Regions from separate parts of the Homo sapiens genome. Here regions 2 and 3 are each linked to region 1. Evidence: fine-mapped expression QTL. A gene starts in region 1. Each other region holds a variant in brackets. All regions are shown on one strand. Distances are between the middles of the regions. Region 1 holds the start of ODF2L (outer dense fiber of sperm tails 2 like). Region 2 overlaps CLCA2 (chloride channel accessory 2). Region 3 holds the start of MIR7856 (microRNA 7856).

Evidence for each region.
Region 2: its variant is fine-mapped to the expression of ODF2L in whole blood (TOPMed, PIP 0.96).
Region 3: its variant is fine-mapped to the expression of ODF2L in thyroid (GTEx, PIP 0.94).

What each region holds. Positions count from the first base shown.
Region 1 is chr1:86,392,882-86,400,970 of GRCh38, reverse strand. ODF2L (outer dense fiber of sperm tails 2 like) reads left to right here and starts at 4,648. Exons shown (of 17, transcript NM_001366781.1): 1 at 4,648-4,938. RefSeq lists an enhancer at 4,674-4,723.
Region 2 is chr1:86,441,751-86,449,839 of GRCh38, reverse strand. CLCA2 (chloride channel accessory 2) reads right to left here. Exons shown (of 14, transcript NM_006536.7): 10 at 5,829-6,053; 11 at 2,062-2,332. Among named protein-coding and RNA genes, the nearest start is that of CLCA2, 22 kb to the right of the region's middle. The variant T/A (reference allele first, on the strand shown) is at 5,236.
Region 3 is chr1:86,354,644-86,362,732 of GRCh38, reverse strand. ODF2L (outer dense fiber of sperm tails 2 like) reads left to right here. Exons shown (of 17, transcript NM_001366781.1): 11 at 2,197-2,307; 12 at 3,842-3,946; 13 at 6,131-6,289; 14 at 7,874-7,959; 15 at 8,041-8,089. MIR7856 (microRNA 7856) reads left to right here and starts at 5,046; the gene lies at 5,046-5,101. The variant G/A (reference allele first, on the strand shown) is at 4,562.

The sequences.
Region 1 (8,089 bases):
TTTTAAACAACAGGTCTCACATGAATTCAGACCAAAACTCACTTATCATCAAGGGGATGGTACTAAACCATTCATGAGGGATATGCCCCCATGATCTGACACTTCCAACATCAGACCCCACCTCCAACACTGGGGATTACATTTCAACATGAGATTTGGAGAGGACAAACATGCAAACTATATCAACTACTCAGCCAAAAAAAAAAAAAAAAAAAAAAACTACTAAACTATGCAACAACATGGATGAATCTCAATCTCAAAAAAAAAGAACAAACTACTAAAATATGCAACAACATGGATGAATCTCAATCTCTCTCTCTCGCTATATATATATATATATATTCATTCAAATATGTGGGTGTGTATATATATGTATATACACATATATACATATATACACACACACATGCCTATTTGAATGAAAGAAGTCAGACAAAAAGGAATATATATTGTGTGATTCCATTTATATGAACACCAAGAATAGGCAATATTAACCTCTAGTCATATAAATTAGAAAGTAGTAGTCTCTCTGTGTGTGGGCTAGGGGAGGATGGAGAGGCATGAGGGTAGTTTTGGTGAACTGACAAGCTACAGACAGATACAAATAAACACTTTGGACTGACATAAATGTTCTAAATTTTGTTTTAGGTATTATTTTCATGAGTGCATATAATTATATAATTGGCAAAAGTCATACTCTGAACATTTAATACATATGTACTTTATTGAATATAAATTATACAACCATTTAAAAGTGGCCTATAATCCTCAGGAATTAAGTAGTCACTGAAGGCATACCTTTGTTGGGAATGGCAGGAATGAAGAATACAAAGATTGTGGGGTGATTTTTCTATTTATGACTGTACTAGGATGCTTAAAGAAAAATGTGATAAGCTCAGAGGCCCAGAGAACTTCTATGATTACCTTAAAACTTTATTAATTGCTGGGATGACACATCCAAATCAAGTATTAATGCTGTGAAGAGCTAAATTACAAGGTAAGTTGAATAAACAGACTCCTCAGGTCTCTTATGTAAGAAATTAAGGCATTGATTGGGAAGGAGTTGGATCTTTAGAGTTGTGATAGAGAGGTTGGGTGAATTCGGATAGCTCTATTATCTTAATACGCAGACACTACAGAGCTTTTTGCTTTCTGAAGAACTCCTCCCTTCCTATCTATAGGGCTGGTCTTGTACTCCTTGAAAATTCTGAAGTAACTTAATCTGAGGAATTTACCTTGTGAATCAATTGAGAAGAACTGATTGTTCTCAGAACTCAACTGTTATCAGTTCTTTATACCTCTAGACTACATCACCTAGTAGAAATATAATGTGAGCCACATACGTAATTTAAAATCTTCTACTAGCTACTCTTAAAATAGTGAAAAAGAAATAGTTGTGGTTAAATTTTGGTAATATATTTTATTTAACTCAACATAAACAAAATATCATTTCTGGTGGCATTGGTGGTATAGTGGTGAGTATAGCTGCCTTCCAAAATATCATTTCGACATAATCAGTATGAAAATCAAGATATTTTATGTTCTTTTTCATATGCAAAATGTGTGTATTTTGCATTTACAACATGTCTCAATTCAGAATCATCACATTTCAAATGTTTGAAATAGCTATAGGTGGCTGGTGGCCTTTGTATTCTCCATATTGGACCGGGGTTTCTTAATGTCAGCACTGTTGACATTTTGTTGTGGAGGATGTCCCGTGCATTGCAGATGTTTAACAGCATCTCTAGCCTCTACTCACTAGATGCCAGTAGGACACTTGCCCTTCCTCTTTGGCTGTGGCAAAAAAAATGTCAAGAACCACTGGTCTAGATCTAAAGTTAGATCCCAACATGTTCCAGGGTATAATAAAAGATCTGACCTGGGAGAAGGGTTTCATACCAAAAAAGTGCAAGATTTTGCTTATTTATATTGGCAGAAGACTATAGAAAATGATAATGAATTCCAAGTGTGGCAGACCAGGGATGAAGGAATATTTTTGATGAGACCAAGATATTAATATGAATACATTTACCAGAGACCATAATTCACTGTTCTTGCTTTGAACATCTAGGAGTGGCTGTCAAGGTTTGCTCAGTTGGTTGATTGAAACTAAATAAAGTTGAGATGTTAGAAATCTCTTGATTTTAGAGGATTGAATTAAAAGACTTAGGGAAAGGGGTAACGAAGAGAGGTTGATTAATGAGTGCAGACATACAGTTAGATAGAAGAAATAAGACCCAGTGTTTGACAGATAAGTAGGGTGACTATAGTTAACTATAATCTATTGTATATTTCAAAATAACTAGAAGAGAACAATTTGAATGTTCATAGCATAAAGATAAATATTTAAGGTGATGGATATCCTGACTATCTTGATTTGATCTTTACACATTACACATTCATATAAATGTATCCAATTATCACATGTACCCTGAAAATATGTACATCTAGTATGTATCAATTTTTAAAGAAGACTTAGGGAATAGTACTGTATGAATGGATTTATCATATGTTACCCAGTCATCTCCTTTCAAAGGTGTTCTGAGAGGGCCAAAGGACCTTCTTTTTACTAAAGCATTGAGAAAATATAGGGAATGCCAGAATCCTTTAAAAGCTCTGTAGCTGCTATTCTATAAGCCTGGGGATAAAGATGCTGCCATTGCATGAAATCCCTAATTCCCTAATGGAAATAGTAAGATCCCAAAGTGATAGAGGCCAAGTGATACCACTGAGCCATCAGAGATGAGATATCTGTTGATACCATGATACCAGCAGGGTGTATCATATTGTTTGACTAAGGGGGATCTTTAGGAGTTGATAATTAATCACTGCCCCTATAATTGAAATGGATAGTCTGCTAAGATTCTACTTAATTTGTACAGCAAAAAATTTACCAGAACTAATGAAGAGACCTGAATGTCATAACCTTAAAGGAGATTTACAGCATCTTGACATTGGCTTTTTGACTCATGGCTATTATAATAGGAAGACAAAGTGGAAGCCTTTGGAACTGCCCTTATCTACTAAAAGATTAAACCAAAGGCAATACCATAGTCCTAGGGGAATTCCAGTGATTAGTGGCACTATTAAAGAGTGCAAAGATGTAAAGGTGGTGATTCTCCATCACACTTTCATTTAACCTTCTGTTTGTCCTCTGCAAACAGGTTATCTAAAATGTTGCTTTTTAATTTTGAAGTATTATTTGTATTCAAGTATCTTTATTCTATTTCATTGCCTGCTATTTTTACATTCTAGTCCCCATTTGTTGCCATGAAGATAGAAATCACAATTTCTACCCAACACTGTAGTGTTGCATCCTGCACACAAACGTACTTTAGTGAGCTCATATGTTTATGTTTATGTATCATCTATGGCTTTTCTTGGTAAGACAATGGCAGAGTTAAATAGTATCACAGAGACCATATGACCTGCAAAACCTATTAATAAAATATTATCTGGCTGTATGAGCACATTTTCATACTGCTATAAAGAATTGCCTGAGACTGGGTAATTTATAAAGGAAAGGGGTTTAATTGACTCACAGTTCAGCGTCGCTGGGGAGGCCTCAGGAAACTTACAATCATGACGGAAGGTGAAGGGGAAGCAGGACACCTTCTTCGTTAAGGAGAAGTGCCCAGTGGAGGGGAAAGAGCCCCTTACAAAACCATCAGATAGCTTGAGAACTCACTAGCATGGGGGTAAACGGCCCCCATGATTCCATTACCTTCATCTGGTCTCTCTCTTGACACGTGGGGATTATGGAACTGCCCCCATGATTCAATTACCTTCACCTGGTTTCTCTCTTGACACGTGGGGATTATGGGGATTACAATTCAAGATGGGATGTGGTCGGGGACTCAGAGCCTAACCATATCACTGGCCCTTTACTAAAAAATTTACTAATTCTGTCTCCCGCTTTAAATTATGAAAGGGACAATTACAGTACTGGTGGAAAAACATTGCTGGAGTGCTTTAGTGAAACCAATTATTTAGGTAGCAGCATGCCACGGTTATGGCTTAGTTGACAGTTACTCTACTTGTGAACTTCATAGGTTGGTGTACGATTCTTAACATGAATATTAAGTAGAGGCATTGAATGAAGATATTTTTCCAATTAAAATCTTGCTTTGCTTCTTCAGGACTTTATAAACCAGACCAGCTGGCTGTGGCACAGATACGAAAGACTTTGAGACCCTGAAGGCACCTTGCAGAACATCCTCAGGCTTCCTCATTTAACAGGAAAAAACCTGAGGCCCAGGGAGGCATCTCAGCTAAAAATACTACTATACATTTAAAAGGAGGTTTCTTCCGGTCGCAGTTGCCTTCACGTTTTCAAATCTTCTCTTTAAAAAGCAAAAGCAGGGCACAACCAGGCCAAGCGCCAGAAAACTCGGAATTGGCTTTATTTCCTTTTTTTCTAGTTGGGCTCGGTTATGATTTTCGGTAACGTACACAAATGCTGTCCTTGTCCATAAACAAACGCTTAAAAAAAAATGTTTACCCGAGAAACAAGGATAGACACGAAGCTGCCCTCCCTGCCCCGTTCCTCACCCTCTCCAATAGCTATAGGCGCTGCCCGCCGTCCCTAACCCGGACCAATCGGCAGCCTGCTGCGGGCCTGACGGGAGGGGTGGGGCCGCCGTTGCCAGAGAAGCCACTAGCCGGTTACTAGCTGCGCTTTTGTTCCACTTGAGCGGGCACTCTTCTGCGGCAAGCAGGTCTAGGAATTCGCCTGGTTCCCACCTCGCGTCCCTTGCCTTCCTTCCTAGTCTACCCACTGTAGTGCCCCCTGCGTCCCGCTCCCTCCTAGCCGACTCAGAGCACAAGAAGGATTGCCACGGTTTCCATTGCAGCAGCCGTGGCGCCTCTGACCCTTTTTTTATATCGCGGCGACGGCGGGCTGTCGTCACGACGACGTGCGGACGCAGCGGCGGGGGCGTAAGTACGCCTTTTGGGTTGGGGGCGACTTTGTGGGGAGCCTAGCTGCTGCTGGGCGTTTACCGCGGGAGCCCTTAGCGGTCTGGAGGTGAGGGCAGTGGTGGGTCCCGGAAGTAAAAGGCCCTCGCGCCCACCCAGCCCCCTCCGCGCAAACCCTCCACCTCCCTCAGGCTGACTACCTGGCCTGGGAAAAGGGCGGCGAGACTCACTCTTAGGAAGGGTGTGGTCCCCGGGACATCAGGGCAAATGTTAGCGTGAGGTGGGCTTGTGCAGAACGAAGTCCTGACCGGGCCGTTCCTGGATATGGTTGCATTTCTTTCAGAAATAGTGACCTCTTAATCATTGGGCTGGTTTTTAATCGCCCATCATGTGATATATCAGATTGTAGGAAGCCCTGGGGGCTTCGTAAGTGAGGTATATTACAGGAATCCTCAGGAAATAATTCCTTCTCCAGGATTCCTCTAGGTTCCAGCCCCTATAGGCGACCCCTGTAGTGCGGGATTGACCTAGGGTCGTGGAGAGTGCTAAAGGCCGACTTGTGTTCAGTCCCAGCTCTGCCACTGAACCCGCTGTGTGGCCTTGTCTAGGTCACTGAACCTTCCTGGATTCCTTACTGATAACTGTAACAGTAATCATCACTTTGGGGTGGTTGTAATACGAGATTAAGTAAACGCAGGGCCATTAAGGTGGCACCGAATGTAGGTGGTTAGTGAGTGGTGGTGCTTGTTGTTTACTGAGAATAACCATACTGGGGCTGCTGTTGGGGATAAAATCTATTTCGAAGACAGTTTCCTCATCACGCAACGCATAGTACGGTTTCAAGTGTTTTTGAATGAATGAGGTTCTTGGAGTTTTAAGTGCAACTGAGTTAAGGTTAAAGAAACAAACCGGGCCGGGCGCGGTGGCTCACGCCTGTAATCCCAGCACTTTGGGAGGCCGAGGCGGGCGGATCACGAGGTTAGGAGATCGAGACCATCCTGGCCAACACGGTGAAACCCCGTCTCTACTAAAACAAATACAAAAAGTTATCCGGGCGTGGTGGCGGGCGCCCGTAGTCCCAGCTACTCGGGAGGCTGAGGCAGGAGAATGGCGTGAACCCAGGAGGCGGAGCTTGCCGTGAGCCGAGATCGCGCCACTGCACTCCAGCCTGGGCGACAGCGCGAGACTCTGTCTCAAAAAAAAAAAAAAAAAAGGAAAAAGAAACAAACTGCAGAAAACCTGTCTGCTTTTGAAATTAGTTTGATATTCTGCTTATAGTAAGAATGTCATGATCATGTTTATGATTTGCTTTTTGCTTCTCTTTTTCATCTTCTTATTTCACAATGGATGTGTATTTATAGTGTAGTTTTTCTATCCCAAAAGTTCCTTGTGACAAACTTTAGAACAATGGAATTTAGTGATCTGGTCGCGGTCTGCTCTCTCTCTTTAGAATTGTAGTCTGTGCTTTTAGCTAGCTCATTCATCACTCATTTCCTTGTCCAGAACAGTTTTCATCTTTTGAATCTAAATTGAACTTATGAGTATTAAAACCTGACTGAATAAAGGCAAGTTTGTGTGTTACTTTTTGCTTTGTAGATTTTTATATTTATGTTTTAGTATCTCATGGCTTTTTTTTTTTTTTGAGATGGAGTCTCGCTCTGCCGCAGTGGAGTGCAGTGGCGCGATCTCGGCTCACTGCAACGTCCGCCTCCCGGGTTCAAGTGATTCTCCTGCCTCAGCCTCTCGAGTAGCTGGGACTACAGGTGCCCACCACCACGCCTAGCTAATTTTTGTATTTTTAGTAGAGATGCGGTTTCACCATCTCATGGCTTTTAATTCAAAACTGAGTTCCACCAATTCCTTACTTGTAATCTTGGACAAGCTATTTAACCCTTCTAAGATTTAATTTACTTATTTATAGCTTTTTAATAACAACCTTGTGAAGCTTTTGTGAGATGATGTTTATAAGGTCAGTCAGTGCTCTGCTCAGTAAATGGCAACAGCTGTCGTGTTGAAGGAAAGGAATATGCTTTATGTTTGTCTGGTACAGGATGGTGACTTTATTTGGGATTAGACAATATTCTGAACATCTTTGGCCAGGTCTTTTTCCGGGTAATTGGGCTCTATATGGACACTCAAAAGTGTCCGAGTTTAAACAGTAAATAATTTAGTCACCCTAACTTATATTTGAGAACCTAATCTATGCTCCCCACTGTGTTAGGTAATTTTTTAGGGCAGAGAGTGATGCGTATTATTTGTCCTCACAGTTAATAGCAAGTTTAAAAGAGAACTAAAATATGAGCATTTATGGAGCAGTTAAATTCTAAACTATATGATTCTGAAAATACTTTTGTTTAGAGTTCTTGATGGGCTGGAGAAATCAGGGCAACACTTTGAGAAGGAAATGGAATGTTGGCTTTGAAGTACATGCCGTGTTTACAGAACAGTCACTCTTGCTGTCAACTCTTCTTCCTATATTATCCAGTCTGCAGCCCATCTTTTAAATATACATCCTTCTTTTTTCATTGGAGAGAGGGATTACTAATTTGTTATCTAATCTAATCTCTCTGTATCAGAAAACGTTTTTTCCATTTTGGTAGCTTTTACGCATAAGATTTATTTTCCAGCTTTTTGCCTGTTTCCAAGATTCCTATCCTTTTTTTTTTTTTCATACAATTACCTCTCTAGTAAACGTTTGACTAGTGTCCAGAATAGTAGGGGGAAAAAAAGAGGATTCCTGTATCTACTTTGTGTTCCTTGCTGAATATGCCATGGTGACTTTTTTCAGTAGAAGCTGTGTTTGAAGCCAGTGGAAGTTAGTTTTCTAAGAATTTGTGTTTGGCAAAACAAAATGTGCAGGTTTCATATGCTATTCTCTTCAGAGATATTGTTTTAAAATACATATTCATCTGAAGTTAGTTAATTTACTTAGTCTGATCTAGGTGTTAAGGAAGGTCATGGACCATGATTTTCCTTTTTCTCTGACCATGGCTAGCATCATGGTCCCTGAGCAGTTATCCCCAAATGCTTGCTGTTGGCCACAGTGGAACATAGTTTAGTGAATGTAGCTGGATCAGCATAGCCTACAAGCACTCCTGGAAAAAGCTTTAAGTACATGTCCTCTTGGCAGTAGACTGGCAAAATTGTCTCTGTATAGGAAATTTAAATCTTT
Region 2 (8,089 bases), 49 kb before region 1:
GCCTAGACCCCAGGGCAGCAGAGGGAAGTCCAGCTTAGCCCAAGTATAGATCACTTTTGCCATTCAAGTACAGGTGGCCATAGTGGGCAAGCAGCTTGTCCTCTATCCTAGAGGTCAATTCAGTTTTCATACCACACACACAGCCCTGCATACCAGCAGTGTATCATTGCTAAAGTGTCCCCAGAATCTCCCTCTTCCCCACTGCAAAGGCAGGGCTCCTTAACATAAGAAAAGCAGGAGTATATTTAAATGAAATAAAAAGTGCTAAACATTTTATTATCAAGATAGATTTAGAACTCTTTTTTGTCTGTTGTAAGAAATCAAATCTTGGTATTTAGTGATTTAATGATTAATAAGGTTTATCTTTGTTGAGAAATTACAAAGGAAAATCTCTCCATATTAAAGTCACCACTGCCACCTCTTTTAATAACTGAGGCAGAAAGAAATGGGGAAAGAACATTGGCTTGGGAGACAGAGGAATTAATTTGAAGGCCTGCATCTGTCACTTAGTAGCTATGAGGCTTCATGTCTCTGAGCCTCAGTTTTCTCATCTATAAAATGGAGATAACTTATCTTGCAGGGTTGTTGTGATGATTATTTGAGAGTATGCATGAAAAAGTACATTTTAAATTGTAAATCATTTCAGAGGTATAAGTTTTATTACAGTTCATTTACTGAGCAAATAAATACTGCTTCCATTATAAAAGTATTAAACAACTATGTACATGCGTGTTAAGTATTGATTGGAGGGGAAACAATTTACATTTTGATGCCTGAGCAGTATTTTTTATTGTTCCTTTTTTTAGTGCATACATTTAGATATCAAACAAATAAAATAGTTCCAAGGAATAATATAAAAGCCAATTGAGCTGAATCAGACGATATTCCCTAGGGGAGTAGGCTCTGTTCTCCAGGCTGGCCCACAGGGTGGGGCAAGAGAGAAACATTCTGCAAAAGTACATTTTTGGACCATAAACAAAAAATGAAAGGTGCAACCATGGATAAGCCATCAGAGCATGAGAAGTTCATTTGGATCCAATCCAACAGGCAAAACAAGAAGACTTCTCTGGTATCCCCCAGTGGTGGACTTGAACCAAAACCCTTTGAATGAACTTTTGTTTTCCTGCACATCATACATGATTGCCATGGCAAGATACTGATGGGCTACCAAACTTAAGACTCTTGAAAAAAGATTAACTTTGAAACAACAGGGCAAAAGAATATAATTTTGTTAGCAGATCAAACACTTCGGGCTGCCAAGAGGCAGGTCTACTGCCATTCTAAGAATGTAATTTAGGAAAATAACCAAATAGGAAAGATGGAACAACAAAGGAATTTGTTTTTCAAAGGATCCCAAGTGCTGCTGTTTACCTGGCTGGATGCTATACCATCTATAATGTATGATGACGAGGCTCTGAATGCTGTATGTGCAGAATGAGAACTTTTCTCTATTCTGATTCCACTAGGCTTGCAGGCTGGGTCTTCTTGGGACCAAATTACACACGTAAAAGGCATTGGCTGTGCTAGAACTGAGCTGTGCCCTCTCTTCAACCCAGCCTCTTGGGTCTAGGGTCATCTTATAGGTCACAAGTTCAGTTTCCAATTTTTTCTTCATAACTGGGGTCCAAAGGGAAAAAGTGGGTTCGCTGTCACTGCACCTCCCTTCTGATTTTCATTTGCTATTTTAACAGTCCAATCTGATTACTTCAGTGAATAATAAAGCTAGTGACTCTTAGAGGAATATAAGTATGTCATAAGGACATAGAAGCCTGCTCCTGTATGACCTCAGCAAGTGGAAGCCAGGACCAAGGTGTCCAGCGGCTGCCTCCCACCCTTTGCTCAAACATAGACACTATGAGGAGTCTCACAAGGACTCTCTTTTTCCATGTTAACCTGTAGCTATTCAGTATATCAGTGACTCTATAAGAATTTGAGAATATTGTAAGATTAAAAAAAAATTGAACTCAAGGAATCTTACAGATAAGCTTAATATTGATACTACCGCATCATATCACAACAGCTGTTGAGAAGATGATAAAATGTCATGACATTCCTTGTTACCTGCTCCATCATCAAGGAGTCTCAGCGTAACAGGATCTCCAGTCTCTGGCTCAACTGTGGCAGTGACAGTGGCATTAAGAATGGGATAAAATCCCTGTTTCACATTGGCATAAATCATCACAGGATGAGGAAAATGGAGGCTGTCTCTTTCCACAAAGGCTTCCACAGTGGCTGGGGGCACAGCTGAGTTGGAGGCGCGAGAGGTCACTGTCACTTTCAGGGCTTGCAGAGAATGATGGGTATTGTTCAGGGTGTAAGTCCAGTGCCCAGGCTGTAAAACAAGTCTTATTGTTTTGGAAAGTGTGAAAAAAAAATCAACCCTAATTTTAAAGCATACATCAAAACTTCTGGAGAATTTTGCTCTTGTTTTGTTGATGTTGCACTTTTTAAAATACTACAAAAAGATGCCAGGAAAAGTAGCATTGGTTAAGGGATGAATAAATTTGTATTTACATGGCTTTCATAGCATAAGTCACCTTTATTTCTAGATAATTCTTTAGGGAATTACACCTCGAATTTATTTGGAGTGAGGGAGGATACATCTTGATTCCCATTTTTAGAACATAACAATAATAGTGTCCAGCTTCAAAGTACTTTACAGATATTAATCTGAGCCCCTTCCCCAAAAAGGCGTTTAAATGTTTTTCATTTCTTTTCATAACTGAGAAAATTACATCAAATTAATTGGACCATTATAATTTATGTGGACACCGTGGACTAAAAAGGCAACAACATCCTTCTTTCACTCCACTTCCCAAAAACTCCACACTCAGAAATCTCAATCAACAAAAAACACATACACTACTAGGGACCAAGAAAAGGACCTACTATTTTTAATAGGTCAGGATTATACAATATCTAATTTGGGTAATTTATAGAAATACTGCTAAACACTACTCTTGCCTATCTGCCTGGGAAAAACCTACAAAAGAAAATCTGAAAGAAAAAGACTAAAATTACAATATAGCAGAAATTCGTCCTTTTGATTAAGCTATACATATATTGCTTTTCCCTGACTTCTGCTGCTGCTCCTTATCAAACCCCCAGAAGTAACAAGTGAAACACAACAAAGCAGAAGGAAGAACAGAAAAGCAAGGGGTTGAAGCGTAACTCAGGGTGGAGAGTTCAGATGCACCACACCCTAGCCATCTTTCTTCATTGGGATTCATGAGCTTCACTATTTTCCATTAAGTTATGATTCAAGGACTATGTTTTTTTGTTTTTGTTTTTTGAATCATAACATTAGTGACAGATGCATGGCAGGAACTTCCACATCAAAAAGTTCTCTGAGTGTAATAAATGTTTTGATACAGGGCATCTAATCCAGACCAAGAGGTCAGGCAAGGGGAGCAAGAAGTAGGTAAAGTGTCCCTGGCCCTTATACACAGGTGTGAAAAGAACATGATGAATTTGGAGAAAAGTTCAATAGGAGCAGAGCATCGAAGAAGTTAAGAGAGAAGCTTGGGTAGAAGCCAAAACATGAAGGGTCTGGTATGTAAGATTTACCACTTGGGCCTGGTGACAGAGCGAGACTCCATCAAAAAAAAAAAAAAAAAAAAAAAGTTCCCACAGCTCACCACTACAGAAGCAGAGAAGACAACTATGCAGAAAACAGAGTTGGTGGCAGTCAGGAGGAATGCAGCTGGTCTGTTGGACCCCTACTGGATTGGGGGAGTGCAGAAGACACTGGTGAAATCCTCTATACTGAAGACCTGCAGTTGGGAGCAGGGGGAGTCCATGGGTCTGCTGATTTTTTTTCCCTATTTAGTACTAATGTGTGTGTGATCTTTGTTTTACAAAATACCTTTTGGGTTTTCTGCATATTTTAAAATTTTTGTACAGTTTTGAATTCTATAGATCGTCTTGGAAGGATACTGTGTGATGAGCCAGGCACACAGTAATTGGAGACTTTTAATGTGTGTAATATTTCATAGATTGCATGCTATTAATCGTCTGTGAGGGTAGTATTTTTTGTTTTATTATAAGTTTCCCTCATTTTTTTATAAATTAAAAGATGGTTGGTATTAGGAATTTCAAATGAATGCAGAAAATCTTACATGCTCTGTACTATTAATATTATAACAAAGACGATCCAAGTCCAAAATCTGACCAATAAAGCAACCATTTTATCAAGATAGAGGATTCTACCATGGGAGAGGGGATTCTTCCCTCCTGAAGTTTGTGTGTCCAATCCCCTTAAAAAAAATGAATAGTTGTCTTTTCTTGTCATATTAATACTCGAAAGTCCATGGTGATATTAATGAAAGTACACTTTATTGTTGCCTTTGACCTTATGGCCAAGGCAATAAATCAGAAACAAAAATAGTGCCAATGTGTCAAAATCTACAACTGAGAGATTCAGCCTCCCATCTGGAATAAATGCGAATCTTCTAAGCTAAAAAAAAAAAAAAAAAAAAAAAAAGGTTAACACTTGGATTTTATTCTGAAACCACCAAGGAGGTTTTGAACAAAAGACAGACTGATTTGTGCTTCAGAAGGATCGCTTTTATAGAGGTAAAGAATGGACTGGAGGGATGGCAGTTCAGAGTCAAGAAGGCTAGTTAAGGGGCTGTCAAGAAGGTGGTGGGAGCGGTGGCTCATGCCTGCAATCCCAGCACTTCAGGAGGCAGAGGCAGGCAGATCACTTGAGGTCAGGAGTTTGAGAACAGCCTGGCCAACATGGTGAAACCTCATCTCTACCAAAAAATACAAAAATTAGCCAGGCATGGTGGCAAGTGCCTGTAGTCCCAGCTACTCGGGAGGCTGAGGCAGGAGAATCGCTTGAACCTGGGAGGTGAAGGTTGCAGTGAGCTGAGATGGTGCCACTGCACTCCCGCCTGGGTGACAGAGCGAGACTCCATCTCAACAACAACAACAACAACAACAACAACAACAACAAAAGTGGGGGTGGGGCAGCATGTGAGGAGGCACTGAATTCAGGCAGTGCAAGAGTGAATCTGATCAACTTACAGTTCTCCTTAGAACCATCAGTGGTTCCCTTTCACTTTCAGGATTCAAGCCCCTGTTCACTTTACTGTTGTGCAAAGCCCTTGCTAATACAGCTCCTGTTTACCTGTCTAGCCTCACTACTCCCCTCTCCTTCCTTTGCCTACATCCCTAACTTATAGATTACCCTACTCTATTGAACTACTCTAGTTCTATGAACAGCCATGT[T/A]CTTTTTATCTGAGTCTTTCTATATGCTGTTTCCTCTGCCCACAATATCATACCCACCTCTGGCCTGTTATTCCTTATATTTCCATTTTGATGTCTTTGCTTCCAGGAAGCATTCTTCCTTCCACCCTCTTGTATGTTCTGATAGTACCCTGTTCATGCTCTTACCATGGCATTTTATTGTAAAGTACCTGGAACAAAACCCAGCACACCCAGTAGATGCTAAAAACCACATGCATTGCATGTATTCATATTATAAATTCTAAGTAGAGATTTTTTTCTAAGCATATAGAAAAGTGTGTTTGTATGGATTATGTAAAGAAATATGTAGGCTAGAAAAACATTAATTGTAATACTAGTGGAAATACTAATTTTCAGTGTTGAAGTATTTGGTGTCTAATATATAAAACTGGGAATATACCTTAGTTATTCCTCTTAAATTTTTAATATTCACAAAATGGCCTCATAAATTTAAAGTAAACTTTTGATATATTAAAACAAGATTTTCTTTACACAATGCATTTAATCATGTGATTCAGCTGAAAATCATAAACTTGGTTGAACGTTGTCCTTAGGAACAAACTCACAACACCTACCTTAGCTGTTCCTGGAATCCAAAGACTAGCTGTCCGAAAAGTTAGATTGGTGATAAAATTATTTGTGTAGTATTTTCGTCCATCAGGATCAAATAATATAATCTCAGGAGGACCACTGGCCTGCCACGTAACTAGAAACATAGTGTCGTTGCCCACAGTATTATCCACAGTCACTGTGTTTTTCAATTGATGGTGAGGTTTGACATTTTCACCTGTACTTTCAAGCTGTTAAAGAGAAGATATATATGAGAGTTTCTGGTGTATGCATAATCATTCCATCTTTTTCTTTTTTAACAAACAACAATTAATTGGCAAAAATAAAAATAATTTAATTCTGACAGGTACTGTAGTTATACATCATTTTTCATAAAAAATACTTTGCAAAGCAAAATATTGCATGTTATTTAAGTACAGTAGGTATAAAACATTTTGTTGTAGTTAATGCAAGTGTCATTTCATTATTCTTTATTAAAAGATGTTAGCTGTCCTCATATTATCTCTTATCCAAACCAACATTGGCCTCAGATCAGCAATTACAATGACAAGCTTTTAAAAATTTTCATTTGTGAATATGCTTAAATTTTATTAATTTGTATATAATCTGTCCAGATCCTTTTATATATTTCGATAAGAAATAAAATCTTGGGTTTTGGCATGGTTTTGCTACGTTAAAAAATTATTTAGGCCGGGCACAGTGGCTCATGCCTGTAATCCCAGCACTTTGGGAGGCCAAGGCGAGTGGATTGCCTGAGGTCAGGAGTTTGAGACTAGTCTGGCCAACATGGTGAAACCCTTTCTGTACTAAAAATACCAACAAATTAGTCAGGTGTGGTGGCATGTGCCTGTAATCCCAGGTGCTCGGGAGACTGAGGCAGGGAAATTGCTTGAACCAAGGAGGTGGAGGCTGCAGTGAGCTGAGATCGCGCCACTGCACTCCAGCCTGGGAGAAGAGCAAGACTCCATCTCAAAAAAAAAAAAAAATTATTTAGCCATTCACAATAAGCCACGTGTGTGCACACACATGTGTAACATGTACAGAGTACAAACGTATGCCTGGCCCCATGCTAAAGGCTTCACAATCTCACTTGATCCTTATAAAAATCCTCTGTGATAAATACTATTGTTATCCACATTTTAGAGATGGGAAGAGTAGGCTTAGAGAAGTAATTTGCCGATGTCACATACCAAGGGAATGGAACCGTGATAAAACCCAGTGGGCCTGACACCAGAGCCCCTGCATTTAATTACTGCGTATTTCCAATGGATACAAGTCTCTAAATAACTTTGAAAATTTACATTTATTAAATAAGCACATTAGTAATGCTTCGTTAATTGCTCAAATCTGCAAAGCGTGTAAAATTATATTGGTGGATAACAGCAAAGACATTGTGAATTGTTTGTTCAAATGAATTTAAGAAATATTTATGGATTGCTGATGGCTGGGCCACATGCTATGCTGGGCCCTGGGCTGTTGAAGAAGATTTACATGTAGTTCCCACCTCACTCCAATGGAGCTAATGACTCCAACAGCTTGTCGGGAGGGGGGCAAGTTTGGGAACGTTAAGGCTTATTTGATCCCATATGAGTAATATTTTGTTAAATTTATTTTTTACTTCTTTAAACATTTGTTTTTATTCCCTATTGTTGCAGAGGAAGTCACAGGGCATAAAGATTGAGCATTATCAGAAGAGCCAATTGTAGCCTAATCTGTACTAGATATTGTCATATATAATTCACATTTTTACTTCTTATTGTGGAATTGTGTTTATTGCCTTCACTGTGTAAATATAATCTTCACGTTAAATAAATTGACAGGCTGCATTGGTCACATCAAGCCATTAACTTGGCAGGCACACTTGCCATCTGTGAGGAAACTATAGATGAAATTTTGTTCAACACATTATTCAGTTATGTCCAAAATATCTTTAAAGTACTTTGGAAAGAAAAAAAAAGTGGCCCTATGAAAAGGACTTAACTAGAGGAAGCTTTGGTGAGCAAAATCATGTAAGTTGTGGTAGTCAAAGAGATATTTAGATATTTGTGGTAGAATTTAATGAAATAGTTGATACCCCTTATACAAGGAAGAGCTTCAAAGATGTTGAAGAAGCAAAAATAAGATGAATTCTGATTGACAGAAAGTTACTATAACACTAAAAGTAAATTCACAGTTCCTTATTTTTCTTCTGCACCTTGCCTCTGCCACACCCCCATCTGCACTTGAGCCACAAGAAAGGAACAAGCTCCACTCGCAGACTTTGAAA
Region 3 (8,089 bases), 38 kb after region 1:
AACCCAGATCACACTACTGCTCTCCAACCTGGGCAACAGAGTGAGACTGCCTCAAAAAGAAAAGAAAAGAAAATTCCAAAGAGCCCTCATAGTGATTCCAGGTGCTGAGTTCTGACGTGTCCTTCACTGAAGGTCATTGACTGCCTGGGCACGGTGGCTCATGCCTGTCATCCTGCAACTTCAGGAAGGCAATGTGGGAGGATCGCCTCAGCTCAGAAGTTTGAGCTCACTCTGGGCAACATACTGAGACCTCGTGTCTACAAACAATTTTTGAAAATTAGCCAGGTGTGGTGGTGTGCGCCTCTCAGCTACTTGGGAGGCTGAGGTGGGAGGATCGCTTGGGCCGGAGAGGCTGAGGCTGCAGTGAACCATGATTACACTATTGCCCTCCAGCTTGGGCCTGACACCCTGTTTCAAAAATAAATTAATAAATACAAATTAAAAAGTAAAAAAAAAAAAAATTTAGTCAGATCGTGTCACTGCCCTGCTCAGAACCCCCCAGAGATATCTTGGTTCGTAAATACCTACAAGGCATTATACCATCTCATTTTCTATTACCTCTCTTCTTCTTCCACTCTCATCTCCTTCCACTCTTCCCCTTTTTTCTCTATTTCTACCTCACTGGCTTTCTTGTTGTTTTCCCCTAACTTGCTAGGCCGCCTCCCGCTGTTGTCTTTTTCCCTTAAACAGACACACTTCCTATCAGTTTTACTCAAAAGTCTCTTTCTCAGGAGGCCTTCGCCCACATGTCATTCCTAGCTGCTTTTGTGTTTGATGTATTTTACTGCTTGTTCTTATTTTTTGTCTGTCTGCCCCTCCAGTATGTAAGCTTCATGGAGGAAGGGAATGTCGTCTGTTTTGTTCACTAATAGAACCTTCAGTGCCTGCAGCATTTTAAAAAGTAACTAGTGAACATATTGGCTCATGTATTCATCAATCATTCACATTTCTGCCTTTTTGAATTACCTACTCATTATTTTTTATATTTGTCTTTTGTCCTAATTAATATATAATAACTATATTAAGGATATTAATCTTATATTTGTTTTATTTTTCTAATGACAAATGTTATTTGACAAGACATCAAATTTGTCATTTGCTAATACTTTTTCATATTTTGTTTGCCATTTAAACTGTATTGGAAAGCTGTGAAATTTTGGAGAGAGATACACGCACACACATTTTTTTAAATGGCTTCTCTTGAGAGTGCTCTCACAGCTCTGCACATCTTGTAATCAAAGATATTGTCCATGTAGACTGTCTTTTGAAGGATGTTTGTATAGTAGATATCCTTGGAATATGGTAACCGTGTCTCCCTTAGGAGTATGGGTAGGCATGCTCACTGCCTGCTATAAGAAATTTGGGTTCCCTAAACTCAGGTTTGTTCTTCTGTAATGCATTTGACTGCATATACAGTTGCCATCTGGCCTCTGGGTTGCTCTGTGGGAACTGGGGCTCAGCAAACTGATACAAATGCTGACAGTCTTGCTACTCTTATTGCTGTGAGTAATAAGTCCCCTGTCTCTGACCTAGGAATCTTGTACCTTCTGTTAGCATCCATGAAATTGCAGTAGACTAACTAGTAAGCTTGCAAGGAAGATAAAATCTCAGACTTTTACATTTCTACATATCTTCTTTTAATTTTATGCTCTTTAGGACTTTTGCTATCCTGAAATGAAATACAGTTTTATCTGAATTGTCTGAAAATTTTTAAAGTTTTTATTTAATTCATTTGATGCTTCTTTAGTGTTGGGCTGAGGCAGGTAGTTAACCTGTTTTTTTCCTAATAGTTAAACAGTTGTCTTATTGTCATTTATTTAGTTGTCCATGTTTCCTCCATTGATTTAAAAATCTAACCTTTATCATGTATTAAGTATAATTTTTGTGTATTTTTCTTTTCCAGTAACCTCTGTATTCTATTGATTTTTCATATCTAGGCACATTTCCAAGTTTTTTTGTCAGTAAATTTAGAAAGTTTTAAAAATAATATGTCCTGTGTAAATCTTAATAAGGATGTTCATAATTATTAGTCACTAGCTTTGTGAAATTCCTAAATTTTAGATGGTATTGCATGAAATAAAAAATAATTATTTTATCAACTTTGTTAATACATGAGTTATGTTTTTATAATAATTCTGTAGCACTGGAGTATAAATGTATTCTAATGACTTATAAAATCTATATCTTTTTTGCTAGACTACACTTGCTGCTTTGAAGGATGAAGTTGTATCTGTTGAAAATGAACTCTCAGAATTGCAAGAAGTAGAAAAAAAACAGAAAACCCTTATTGAAATGTATAAAACTCAGGTGACTACTGCATTTATTTTAGTGTTTACTAAAATTGGTAGACAATTTAAAACACTATTTCTTTGTAATCTAAATAAATAGAACTGAAGAGAGGTGGGGCTATCATTGTGGGTTATAATATGGTGTGTCTCAAATATTTCTTAAGGTCCCACACATCTTTATAAATAGATGATTCTGCTGATTCCTGATTCAAACACTGCATATGGATATACTGGATATTCCTAAAAGTAGATTTAAAATGAATTACATCGGTATAATGTGACCCTTAATGTATTCTTGTTAATCTTGGTTATATTTGTTTGTCATCATGTGTATTTAATGGTATTGATTTAGATTAATGACTCCCTTCTAGGGTCATTAAAGTTCATTATGCCTCCTTTCTCAAGAAATAAAGTATAATTCAGATTATTCACATGAAAGACCAAGAAAAGAACATATGACAATATATATGAAATAGACCATGTGTTCAATGGTAATTTATAGAAAACCTTTATTTTTTTGGAAATGTAGTATTCAAGAAAAAACTTCATAAGATGGGACTTATGCAGGTCCTTGCATGATGGTTAACACACTGGTCAGAGAGAGTTTGAATTAAAGAATAATGAACTGGCTGGGTGTAGTGGCGTACACCTGTAATCCACTGGGAGGCTGAGGTGGGCGGATCATTTGAAGTCAGGAGTTCGAGACTAGCCTGGCCACCATGGTGAAACCCTGTCTCTACTAAAAATACAAAAATTAGCCAGGTGTGGTGACATGCACCTGTAGTCTCAGCTATTCAGGAGGCTGAGGCAGGAGAATTGCTTGAATCCAGGAGGTGGAGGTTGCAGTGAGCCGAGACTGCACCAATGTGCTCCCAGCCTGGGCAACAGAGCAAGACTCCATCTCAAAAAAAAAAAAAAAAAAAAAGAATGAACTAAGGATGAAAGCTTAAGGGGGCCAAAGTGTGGGCAAGTAGGAAGGGGCTGCATCTCGATGGATTAGATGGGAAAATTAAGTTGAGACATCCAGTTAGAATATTTCAGTCATCCAGGTCTGAGGTAGGAATGGAGGTTGTGGTGGACTGTGGGACTTGTTATTCATCAGGGTCTTCCAGCTGGTTATTTGGGTTTAATCCCTCAGCAGGAATACTGTGGTTGAGTGACCATATTCTGGGTGCAGGGCCTAGAATTTTTTTTTTTTTTTTTAGCAGATTTTGATTTGGTGGGAAAAATAATTTAAATGGAAGCTAGTTTGGACCAGAGACTGATTCTTTGAAGTGACATTGATCTGCAAATGAAAATCTTTGTAGTCTTCAAAGCTCAAGTGGAGAGTTTAGAAGTATTGATGAGAGAAGACAGGTAAATCAGACAAAGATTGTGGGTTAGAGTAGAGCACTGAGTGATTCCATATTTAAAGAAGTAATAACATTAGATGAACCAGTCAAGGATATTGATAGGAAAATAATGACTTGTTTAAAATGAAATTTTAAATTTTAGATTTTTATCTCATGTTATGATTCTAAAAATAATATGTTTCTCTAATACTTTATTTTCAGGTACAAAAGTTGCAAGAAGCAGCTGAAATAGTAAAAAGCAGATGTGAAAATTTGCTACATAAAAATAACCAAATAACAAAAACCAAAAATAAAAATGTAGAGAAGGTACGTTTGGAATTTCAAATAAATAATATTTTATATATTTTTTACTTTATGAATAGTACACAAATTCATTCATTTTGGTCATTTTCTCTAGTTCATACTTAGGAAAGGGCTAGTCTTAGCCTCTGTAAGAGTTTGTTTTCCAAGGAAATAATGTTTCTTCCAGGCTGGAAATGTTGTTTGTTTATGTGAATGTTTTTTCACTTTTTTGTTAATATTTGGAAAATAGCATAAATGTTTAATTTTTCTGATGCAAGAGCAGACTTTAAATAGCTCAAAAAATGGTTATCAATCATAAGTATACAAACCTAAGTATCTCTCATTTTTAATCTCACCCTTTTTTTCTGGTTATAAATGTTTTACGTCTACAAAAGCAAAGCCAATATCTGCTAAATGCATTTTTGAAGAAAAATAATATCTTTTAAAAAACGATCATTTCCTTTTATTTGTTCTATTGCAACAGAATGAAGGGAAGGCCAGTGTTGGCGAGTTATGATGTTTTTGTGAATATTTTAAAATTTTTAAATGAAACCGCATCTCTGTTTGGTTTTTTGTGTTGTTTTGGTAAAGAAGCAGTGAAAGTTGTAGGATGCTGACTCCTGGCAGCAGAGGTCATGC[G/A]ATGTTAGTGGTCGCTTCCATCTGAATCTAATAAGGTTACTCTCTCTGGGTTGCTCCCTATCTTAGGATTGAGAAGTCAGAGCAAGGCAATAATGTGAAGAAGAGGTCAGCCAGAGCAAGCGTCCTCCAGTTATACAGACATAAAGATAGCTCACTGAATGCACAACTTACTGCTTTCATGGAATTACTTTTCACCTATTTTTAGCAGGCCAGCGAATAAACCATTTCATGTCTTTTGGTCTCATTTTCTCATGAAACATACCAGTGCAAATGTCTCCTTTTCTGCTAGGCAGCACTGTAAATAAAAGCATATTTTACAATCCTGTTCAAATGACGGAAAGGGTTGGAGCCTGTCTTTTTCAGATACTGTGAGGTCACAATGTTTTCTAACTAGTATTTAACAAGACAACTATTTTTTTAATGAAATTTTTCTTTTTCTTACTTCACTGTTTTAAGTCTCCTGGTTTTCTCATGGCCTCTAAGATGTTTTAAGGACACTGAGGGATCCTTTGTTCTGGATCCCTCAGTGTCCTTAAAACAGACATTTTTCAGTCTGTTTTTTTTTTTTCCTGTTTTACTTTATATACCATCAGAATATGGATCATGTGTATCCTGTTAGTAGCCACATAGCCTTCTCCTAGCTCAATGCCTAGCACGTAGTAAGCACTCAATATTTTTTTAATTAATGAAATTTTTTTTAAAGGAGCAGTCCAAGGATGGCGACAAGTCTTTTTTCTTTTACTTTCAAGACAGTTTTAGGAAGCATTCCCTGTCTGTCTTCCAAATATAATCTGGATTTTAATTTTGCAAAAAAAAAAAAATACTGCATTATCTTTCCTGATCAAGAATGCCAGATACTACACAGAAACTATTAGGTGTTCCTGTCTCAGGGAAAGAGTCTGGCTATTTTTTGTAATTAGCAGTGCAAACATTTCTTAAGGTTGCTGCTTTTCACATCTCCACGAAAGTGCTGCAGCGAGGAACTGCAGTAGCCAAAACAGATTAATGTAGATGAAATTAGAGAGATTTGTTGATAGTAACATTAATGGCCAAATTAAAGGCAAGTGAGAACTGATGATACTAGCAATTTTTAAATAATATACAGTAAACCCTATCAGTTTTGGCTAAGATGAGTGAAGCAAGCTGCTCTAATTTAAGTAAGTATCTGAGTTATAAGATTGAATGACTAAAAGTGACAATTCCTTTAGAACCTATAGCTGGGCAGTAGACAATTACGGCTTTATTAGTAATGGTTATTAGTGATAATCTATGCTTGAATATAATGTCAGGATTTTAAAAATTTGCTCTTAAAAATTAGTTAAACATCCACCCTGTCAGCTAATTTACCCTATTTATGTGCTCAACAAACTTTTTGAAAACTAAAGTCTACCCCACTTTTTAGTTATACATTCTTATTTAACAGAGTTTAATATTTATTCAGTTGTGTTCTTATTTAAAGCCATTATACCTAAAATACTTACGTTATAAGCATATCTAGTATTTAAGATAATAAAAATATTAATGCTGAATGTGTGATCTTGCACTTATTTCCCTACTGCCACAACTCAGATGAGAGGCCAGATGGAGTCTCATCTGAAGGAGTTAGAGCGTGTCTGCGATTCCTTGACGGCGGCGGAACGGAGGCTTCACGAGTGTCAGGAGAGTCTGCAGTGCTGCAAGGGGAAGTGTGCAGACCAGGAACACACCATTAGGGAGCTTCAGGGCCAGGTGTCCAGCCGTCCTTCTGAGTTTTGCTAGATGCGTTAAAAGAATGCTTTGGAATGATTTCACCAGTTGAGGGCACTCATGTCAGGGCTTGATTTTTAAATTCCCATCTACTTAGTTCGTAAAACATCATTTTCATGCAGATACTATAATACAGTTTTGCAAGCTATTCTTTTAGTATTTTATGGTGAAAAATTGGTAATTAAAATTCTTATTTTAGTTTATTCATGCAAATCTATAGACATTTGAAGACATGGTAATAGAATGAGAGAAGGAGCAAAGTTATACTTACATATATGTTCCTTGATGTAAGGATAAGGTAAATTATTGAAACTTACATTACAAAAATTGAATTTATTTTAATTAGAATTGTACGTCAAGTTTTTTGGGATATTTTTCAGTCTGTTTCTTTTTCCTGTTTTACTTTTTATACCATCAGAATATGGATCATGTGTATCCTGTTAGTAGCCACATAGCCTTCTCCTAGCTCAATGCCTAGCACATAGTAAGCACTCAATATTTTTTTAATTAATGAAATTTTTTTTAAAGGAGCAGTCCAAAGATGGTGACAAGTCTTTTTTCTTTTACTTTCAAGGCAGTTTTAGGAAGCATTCCCTGTCTATCTTCCAAATATGATCTGGATTTTAATTTTGCAAAAAAAAATACTGCATTTTCTCACTTAAAAAGTAGGAGCTAAATGATGAGAACACGTGGACACATGGAGAAGAACAACACACAGTGGGGCCTTTCAGAGGGTGGAGAGTGGGAAGAGGGAGAGGATCAGAAAAAATAACTAACAGGTACTAGGCTTAATACTTGATTGATGAAATAATCTGTACAACAAACCCCCATGACACAAGCTGACCTGTGTAACAAACCTGCATTTGTACCCCTGAACTTAAAAGTTAGATAAAAATATGCAGACAAAATTTTAGTTTAAATTCCTGAGAAGAGATTTTTCTAGTAAAATGTCAAACGACATAGATTAGCCTAAATTACTAATTGAAATTATGAGAAAAAAATTTTTTCCTTGAATCAAAGCTTCTTACATTATTTAGAGCAGATTTTGAAGCAGTGGGAAGAATATTCTGTCTTGGCATGGGTGAGTGTGTCTTTGGTTGATTTGTTCACTTTGCTTCTCAAAAAAATATGTATTTTATTTACAGTTTCGACTTCACAGATACTCAATTATTAATCAGTATTTTTAGGTGAAACAGAAAACCATAAGAGAAACCCTAGGTATCCAAAAATAGGAGATTAATACTGCTTAAAATTTTCCTATTTCAACTTAACAAAATAAATATCTTTCTTCAATAAGGTGTTGTTCAAAGTGTTTTAATAGCCATCATCCTGAATTTTTTTTAGTTGGTTATTTTCCAATACAGGCAACATAACTTCTTTAAATTTAACCAGGAATTTAAAACTTCCATTTTAACAATATAACATTTTCTTGGTGTCTTTCTGTGTAAGAGTAGTAACATTTATACCTTCTCGTTGCTTGTGGTTGTTCTAACAATAAATTATATGGATTTCTTTGGAAGTTGATTGTGAAGAAAATGACTAAGAAAACTTTTTTTTTTCTTTTAGGTTGATGGAAATCACAATCTTCTGACAAAGCTTTCTCTGGAAGAGGAAAACTGTCTTATTCAGCTGAAGTGTGAAAACCTTCAACAGTAAGTATTAAATTACTTAACATTGCTGCTGCATATTTCTCTGCACATTAACATTTTAAAATATATGTTTTCTGTAAAAAGAAAATTAGAACAGATGGACGCAGAAAATAAAGAGCTTGAGAAGAAGCTG